Homo sapiens: one gene and its partner. The protein of the gene in region 1 interacts with the protein of each later gene in a pairwise test. Each region holds a gene or a part of one and is shown on either strand. Other genes may lie near its edges.

The links.
Region 2: the proteins of RASSF5 (region 1) and NDUFV2 interact in binary tests that used the Homo sapiens proteins (3 or more experiments, as listed by UniProt).

Annotation. Positions count from the first base shown.
Region 1 is NC_000001.11:206,534,986-206,538,572, reverse strand, and holds part of RASSF5 (ras association domain-containing protein 5), read right to left. Parts: intron 402-3,587; coding exon 280-401; intron 1-279. UniProt on the Homo sapiens protein: Potential tumor suppressor. Seems to be involved in lymphocyte adhesion by linking RAP1A activation upon T-cell receptor or chemokine stimulation to integrin activation.
Region 2 is NC_000018.10:9,123,112-9,126,698, forward strand, and holds part of NDUFV2 (NADH dehydrogenase [ubiquinone] flavoprotein 2, mitochondrial precursor), read left to right. Parts: intron 1-1,762; coding exon 1,763-1,872; exon of another isoform or gene 1,873-1,885; intron 1,886-3,587.

The DNA of each region.
Region 1 (3,587 bases):
CCACTGCTCACTCATACCCACATCTCTGGCTCAGAGCCCTAAGCCACAATAGGCTCTGTACTTGGGGAGAACTACAGGGGACTTCTGAGTATCTTCAGAGTTCTCTGTGTCACTTCCCCTAGTCCCCTTGGAACAGGGTGTCTGTGAACTCCATCCAGTGCATGTGGAATCTGAGGCCTCATGCCACCTCCTGCTCACCAGAGCTCCTGGGAGAGAAAGTGGAGCCCGGGGCACCTGCAGAGGCTGTTCCCAGCTTGGTACGAGAGCTTTGGCACCTACCTGGCTGAAGGTCACGGTGAGGGTGCTTTCTGGAGAGGGTCTGTCCCGGGATAAACCCTCCTGCTGACTGCAGTCCAACTGGATCAGGCTGCGGCATTCTGGGTGACAGGTGAATTTACAGTCTGGAGGTAAAGAACAAAAGGGAGATTAGAGGACAGGCAGGATTCCTCCCCACTTTCACCCAGAGAAATAACCTTGGAGATTGCATTAGTTCCCAGTGGGAAGAGCAGTGCAGGAGAGAAGTGGTGGGGCGGGAGACAGCGTGAGAATGCCACCCTGCTCTCGGATCCCCCAGGAAGGATGCAAGTTAAGTGCTCTACGCGTTTGCAAACTGCTTTCACCTGCATTACTTTGTGTGACTCTGCAATCATTATTATTTCCATTTTACAGATAGAAAATCAGTGCCTAGAGACTGAGTGACTTTCTCAAGGTCAGAACTTCTGCCTCCCAGACTGGTGCTCTTTCTACCACTTTACATTAATCACCAGCACCCATAAATCCCTGGGGAAGGACTTGACTTTTATGGGCCTTATGTTGCCAATCTGTAAAATACAGGTTGTGCATCCCCAAGCTGAAAATCAGATCTCCAAGATGCTCCAAAATCTGAAACTCTTTGAGCATCGACATGACACTCTAAGGAAGTGCTCACTGGAGCAATTCGGATTTTTGATTTTCAAATTTGGGATGCTTGACTGGTATCATACATATTCCCAAATCTGAAAAAAGTCCAAAATCAGAAACACTTCCGGTCTCAAGCATTTCAGATAAAGGATACTCAGCCTGTATGGGTAATAGCTCCCCTGCCTGCTTCTAGTTATAAAGGAGGACATATCTTGAAGAATTAAAAGTGCTTCCAGAGACAAAGGCATTATCATCAGCAGGAAGTGCTGTTACCTCTCTCTGACCCGGCCTAGGCTAGAATGTGGGGATGCTACTCTGAATGCAGCTGAAATAGCCCACAGACCACATCCCAGATCCGGGGATTCAGCGGGGGAAGCACATTCCATCGACAATGTTCACTTCCATGGAAGCAGAGACTTAGTGACCAGAGTTGAAAAGAGCTTTGGGGACTACCTCAGAGATGGGGAAACTGAGGCCAGAGAGAAAAAGTGAGGTGCCCAATGACACACAGCTCATTGGTGGCAGCACCAAGGCTGCTAGTATTTTCCAGCTTTCTCAAGGGCTCTCTTTGGAGCCTCCTGGCAGAAGGGAGGTGAAGTCAAAGGCAGCAGGAGACTCAGGGAGGCGAGGGAAGGGCAGGGGAGCGGGGGTGGGGGGTAGTGAAGACAAGGTGGCAGCAGAAGAAAGTAACACAAGTCCATCCGCAGGGAAAATGCTCGGATCTGAGGTGTGGTCCTCACAGATAGCTGCCAGGTCAGCTGGAGTCACCTATTCTGGAGGTGCCTCAGCTCGGCCAGAAGGCCCAGCCTTCTAGGCGCTGGAATCTCATAAATTTTCCTTCTGGACTGTGAAGGCAAGTCATGAGGATGGGTTAGGGTGGGCGGGTTTTGTGGCAGGAGTCGTGACAGCCTGGACTTGATTGCATACCTGGGGATTAGGGGGCCACTTTTTGTTGATAAGGGCTCAGGCACCTCGAAATGCTTTTCCTTCCTTCTAACAAGCTCCAAAAATTCAGTACATTTGGTGTCGATTTTTAAAAGCCACCACAGCACACTCTATCTTGGCAGAGGGGTGATGGCTCCTTTTCTCCCCACTTTTGGGGAGCTTTGGAATGACACCCCCCTCTCCCCAGCTGCCCCTTCCCTTACTCCCCCAAAGATAAGCACCTGGACCATGTTTCTTGCACGGGTTTTGCCACTAATGTCCATAGGGGAGCACCCTGACAAATGTGGGGACACACAGAGATCCCAGAACCGCACGACCTTCCTACCCATGGCCTGACCACCTTTCTGTAACAGTGTCTGGAACCTTCACTGCTCATCTCCTTTGTGCTCGAAAGTGAAGCCCACCAATATCCTCTCCTTCAGATCCCACGCTTCTCTACGCCTCCCTCCTCCTCTCACTTGGAGACAGAAATGAATGAAGTCAATTCCCTGGGGCATGCACCCATCTACCTGCAGGCACCCACATGCATTTCTGGTCCTCCGTGGGAGACCTCTTGCTCAGCACAAAAACAGCCTCCCCTTTAGTAAGGTGAAGGGTACAAAGGGAAGTGCAGGCCAAACTTCTGCCCGCAGTGCCCAGAAATACCAGGGTTTTGATAAGGGAGCACTGAGGCCAGAACCCACAATGGGCAGCATTGTTCCTGGCGCTGGCCCTGGGACACACCTGTATGGCTCTGGTAGAGCTCTGAGCGATGAAGAATGCTCTGAGGATGCCAAGAAATGGCAGCAAGGAAAAGGAGGAAGGACTGAAAGCTCGCCCAGCTCCACGGTGATGACAGCTGCCATAACTCACAAATGGGAAGGCACCTGGGAGAGGAGGAATTTCTCTCTCCTCCTCTTTTAGCTCCTTGTCCTGTTGGCACAGGCAGTCTATGTCCACCTGTGCATCTGAATCTCTCAATTTCCATCTCTCTCTCTCTCTCTCACACACACACACACACACACACACACACCACACACACACAGACACACACACACACACACCCTGAAAACATCACCATGCTGAGCTGGACAACACTAAGTAGCAGAAGACTCTGAGAAGTGTTCTGGGATTTTATAAGAAGCATGTTTGAGCACCAAAGACTTTGTTCCATCGGACCATGTAATCACAGGCTGCAGCAAAACCTCTGAAGCACATCTTCATACTTCCTCGTCCTGGAAATGCCAAGCCCAGGGCTTTTAGGCCAGCAGAGATGAAGTCAGAGCCCCCATGCCTTTCTCCAAACCCAAAAGCAACAGCCTGCAGGCCTGACATTTTCAGGGATTGGGGAGACCCATGAGATTCCAAAGACAGAGCCACATTCCACTAGACCCAGTGGTTAATTCTCCACAGACCACAGTTCCCTTAAGGCAGCTCGTCACCAGCTGCTGCCAAACCAAACCAACCCCTGCCCTTGGTATTCCACTGTCCTCCACAGCCTTCAGCTGGTGCTCAATTTATGTTTTGTTTTTTGTTTTTTCTTTTTGAGGCAAGGTTTCACTCTGCCACCCAGGCTGCAGTGCAGTGGCACTATCGTGGCTCTCTGCAAACTCCACCTCCCGGGCTCACCTCAGTCTCCTGAGTAGCTGGTACTGCAGGCGCCCACCACTGCACCTGGCTAATTAAAAAAGGGTTTCACCATTTTTCCCAGGCTGGTCTCGAACTCCTGGGCTCAAGCGATTTGCCCACCTCTGCCTCCCAAA
Region 2 (3,587 bases), on another chromosome or scaffold:
CAGATGTTATTACAGTAGCATTTGAAAAGTAAATTAGCATTTTAAAAGTAAATGGGCATTTTCCCCTACAAAACTGCCATTGCTACACTTCTAACTATATATGTCAAATGAAGTAATATTTTGTTATTGAATATAATATGTGCATGTTGTAAAAATAGCTGGGTGGTATTGAAATATATAAAACAGCTGAAGTTGGCTCAAACCCCCCCACCCCCAACACCATCAAGGTATAAATCCTGATAACAATTGGATATATTAGTTGTAGATTTTATATCATTTTAATTATTAAATATATAAATGTACTACATGTATGCTTGCTTTTTAGACTTTATTTTGGCTGTATTTCTACAGCACAATATATATGTCTGCCTCATTTTTTTTTTCTGTTTTTTTGAGTTGAGGTCTCACTTTGTCACCAGGCTGGAATGCAGTGGCTGGATCATGGCTCACTGCAGCCTCCAATTCCTGGGCTCAAGTGATCTTCTGCCTCACCCTTCCAAGTAGCTGTAGCTATGGGTGCATGCTGCCAAGCCCAGCTAATTGATTTTTGTTTGTTTTTGTAGAGAGGGGTCTTGCTATGTTGCCCAGGCTGGTGGTTGTGAAATCCTGGCCTCAAGCAATCCTCCTACCTTGGCCTCCCAAGTGCTGGGATCACAGGTGTGAGCCACCATGCTTGGCCTGCCTCATTTTTCTTTTACAAACAGTTACTTTGATGTACACACACATCTTTGCGTACTTGTCCTGTTGTATGCTGAGATAGTTTACAAGAAGTAGAATTGTAGGGTCAGACTTTACCGTATTTTTCCCAAATGCCTTCCCTAAATGTATGAGACTACCCATTTTCTTCACATCCCTTGATAATCTTTGACGTTAGGAGTTTTCTGAGTCTTTGCCAAATCTGATAATGTGACTGTGATTTTAGTAGTTTAATTATTACAATCAAAATGAAAATAATACAGCCTGATGCACTGCTGTATAACAGTAAACACTGGTGATAAGTCCTCTGAAATTTGATTGCTTTTAAAGGAACAAGTCCACTAAAAACTTCCTTGAATGTTAAAATTACATAGAGTTTTTTTTTTGTTTTTTTTTTTTGAGAGAGTCTTGCTCTGTCACCCAGGCTGGAGTACAGTAGCACAATCATGACTACTGTAAAAAATTTTTACTACTGTAAAAAAATTTTTAATTTTTTTGTAGAGCTGTGTCTCCCTATGTTGCCCAGACTGGTCTCAAATTCCTGGGCTCAAGCCATCCTCGCACCACGGCCTCCCAAGGTGCTGGGATTATAGGACGGAGCCACTCCACCTGGCCTAGGATTTTTTTCTTTTTAAAAAACTTTTTTTTTTTTTTTTTTGGAGATGGAGTCTTGCTCTGTTGCCCAGGCTGGAGTGCAGTGGCGCAATCTCGGCTCACTGCAAGCTCCGCCTCCTGGGTTCACGCCACTCTCCTGCCTCAGCCTCCCGAGTAGGTGGCACTACAGGTGCCCGCCACCACACCTGGCTAATTTTTTGTATTTTTAGTAGAGACGGGGTTTCACCATGTTAGCCAGGATGGTCTAGATCTCCTGACCTCGTGATCTGCCCACCCCAGCCTCCCAAAGTGCTGGGATTACAGGCGTGAGCCACCGCGCCTGGCCTCTTTTTAAAAAACTTAATAGTCTTAAACTTTTAATATACCTCTATAAAAATTCTTTTTTTTTTTTTTAAACCAAATGACTATTAAAATATAACCTGGTCCTTAGAGTGTTTATTTGTATTTTTAGGAATAAAGGTTGGGGAGACTACACCTGACAAACTTTTCACTCTTATAGAAGTGGAATGTTTAGGGGCCTGTGTGAACGCACCAATGGTTCAAATAAATGACAATTACTATGTGAGTATTTCAGGTAATACAAGTTAAAGTTGTATGATGTCATATTTAAAACATTTTAAATATTTGATTTTGTGTCCTTAGATGTTGGTTTCTGAATTACTCATTTAGAAGAAATGGTTACCATAAATATCCAGGTTTTAAAAAATTCTTTAAACATTTTTGCATTTAACTTCAGAAGACAAATTTTAAAACTTTAGATTATGAAAAATTTAATAATTTGGATATTAATACAGAAAATAATCCTAGTGTAGCCAACTATCAGGACTTAACTGAGAGTAATATTTTGCCACATTTTACTTCAGATACTATCATCATCATCATCATTTGTAGAAATAAGCTACAGATACAGGTGAAATACTCCATCCCAAATCTTTTTCTCTTCCTTTTATCCCCAGAGATAACCATTATCATAAATTGTGTCTATATATGTATGCAGCTATACTAATATGTTGTATGGCTTTTTAAAAAAATTTTATAGAGATGGTATCATACCTCTAAGTACTGCAGCTGGATCTCACAAGTTTTGCAGTCTTTTTTGTTTTTGATTGAGCGTTTCTGTTTTTTTTTTGTTTTTCATTTTGATTTCTTTGACCTGTAAGTTTCTAAAAATGTTCTTAATATCCATATATATGGCGTTTTCTAGTTATTTCTTTAAAAATTGCTTGCTACCCTAATTATATCACCGTTTTCATTCAAGATACCTTGTTAGCTCATATTTCTTAGAAATTTGTTTATGGAAATTTTGGAGGGACTGTACTTAAGGTAGATTTTCTTTTAAGAAGGGATTTGCTTTGTTTCTCTCCTGCTCCTGGCAGTACTGCTGGCCCCAGAAAAGCCCCTCTCCTTATACCCTAGGCCTCTGTTCCTCCGGTGTGAAAGGTTCCAGACTAGCAGTTTTCTTTGAGGGACAGTTTACTCTTATAATGAGGTTAAAGCTTTTGGGGACCTTAACTTTGTGTAGCTTACATGGTCTCTTGTTAGACTCTCTGGGGCTGGCTGGGTCCCTTGCCCCTCTAAGCTTTGAAACTCTGAAGCAAAGTTTGCTTGATGTTCCACTTTCTTTCTTTGGTTTTCCTTGAGAATTTGGCGTCTGGGTACTTATTTCTTGATTTAAATAGGAATTAGACAGTCAAGGCTTTGTGTGAAGCATTGTTAAGTCTAAATATAGTAGCCTGTAGATGGGTTTGTTTGAGATAGGTATTCTTTCAGTTAGCAGTAGTTAGATCTTTAGGGATAGATACTAGGCATCTACTTAACAAGTTACTACAGCTACTTTGTACCTTACTGTTTCTTCAGTAATACAGCATTTATTTAGTATGTACGTTGACACTGTTCTACTTTATATATTTTCTCATTAATCCTCAAAAACGTGCTGAATTAGGTTTACAAATAAACAAACAAACTTGGGGAGGCTGGGTAACTTGTCCAAGATTACTAGCTAGTAAGTGATAGAGCCAGAACTCAAATGCAAATATGTTTCAATTCAGAGCAATATTCTGTATTGCCTCTTCAGCTGCAGGCTCTTGTTGCATATTATATTTAGCAGTGTGTACTATATATAGGAGTTACTTAATTGTTGATGCCTTGGTAACTATCTTGTGAGCTGAGACAGACAATAAAATCACTGGCATTAGGGATTTACAGATTTCAGCCGTAGAAAGTAATTTTGTGCCATGCGTGGTGGTTCATACCTGTAATCCCAGCACTTTGGGAGG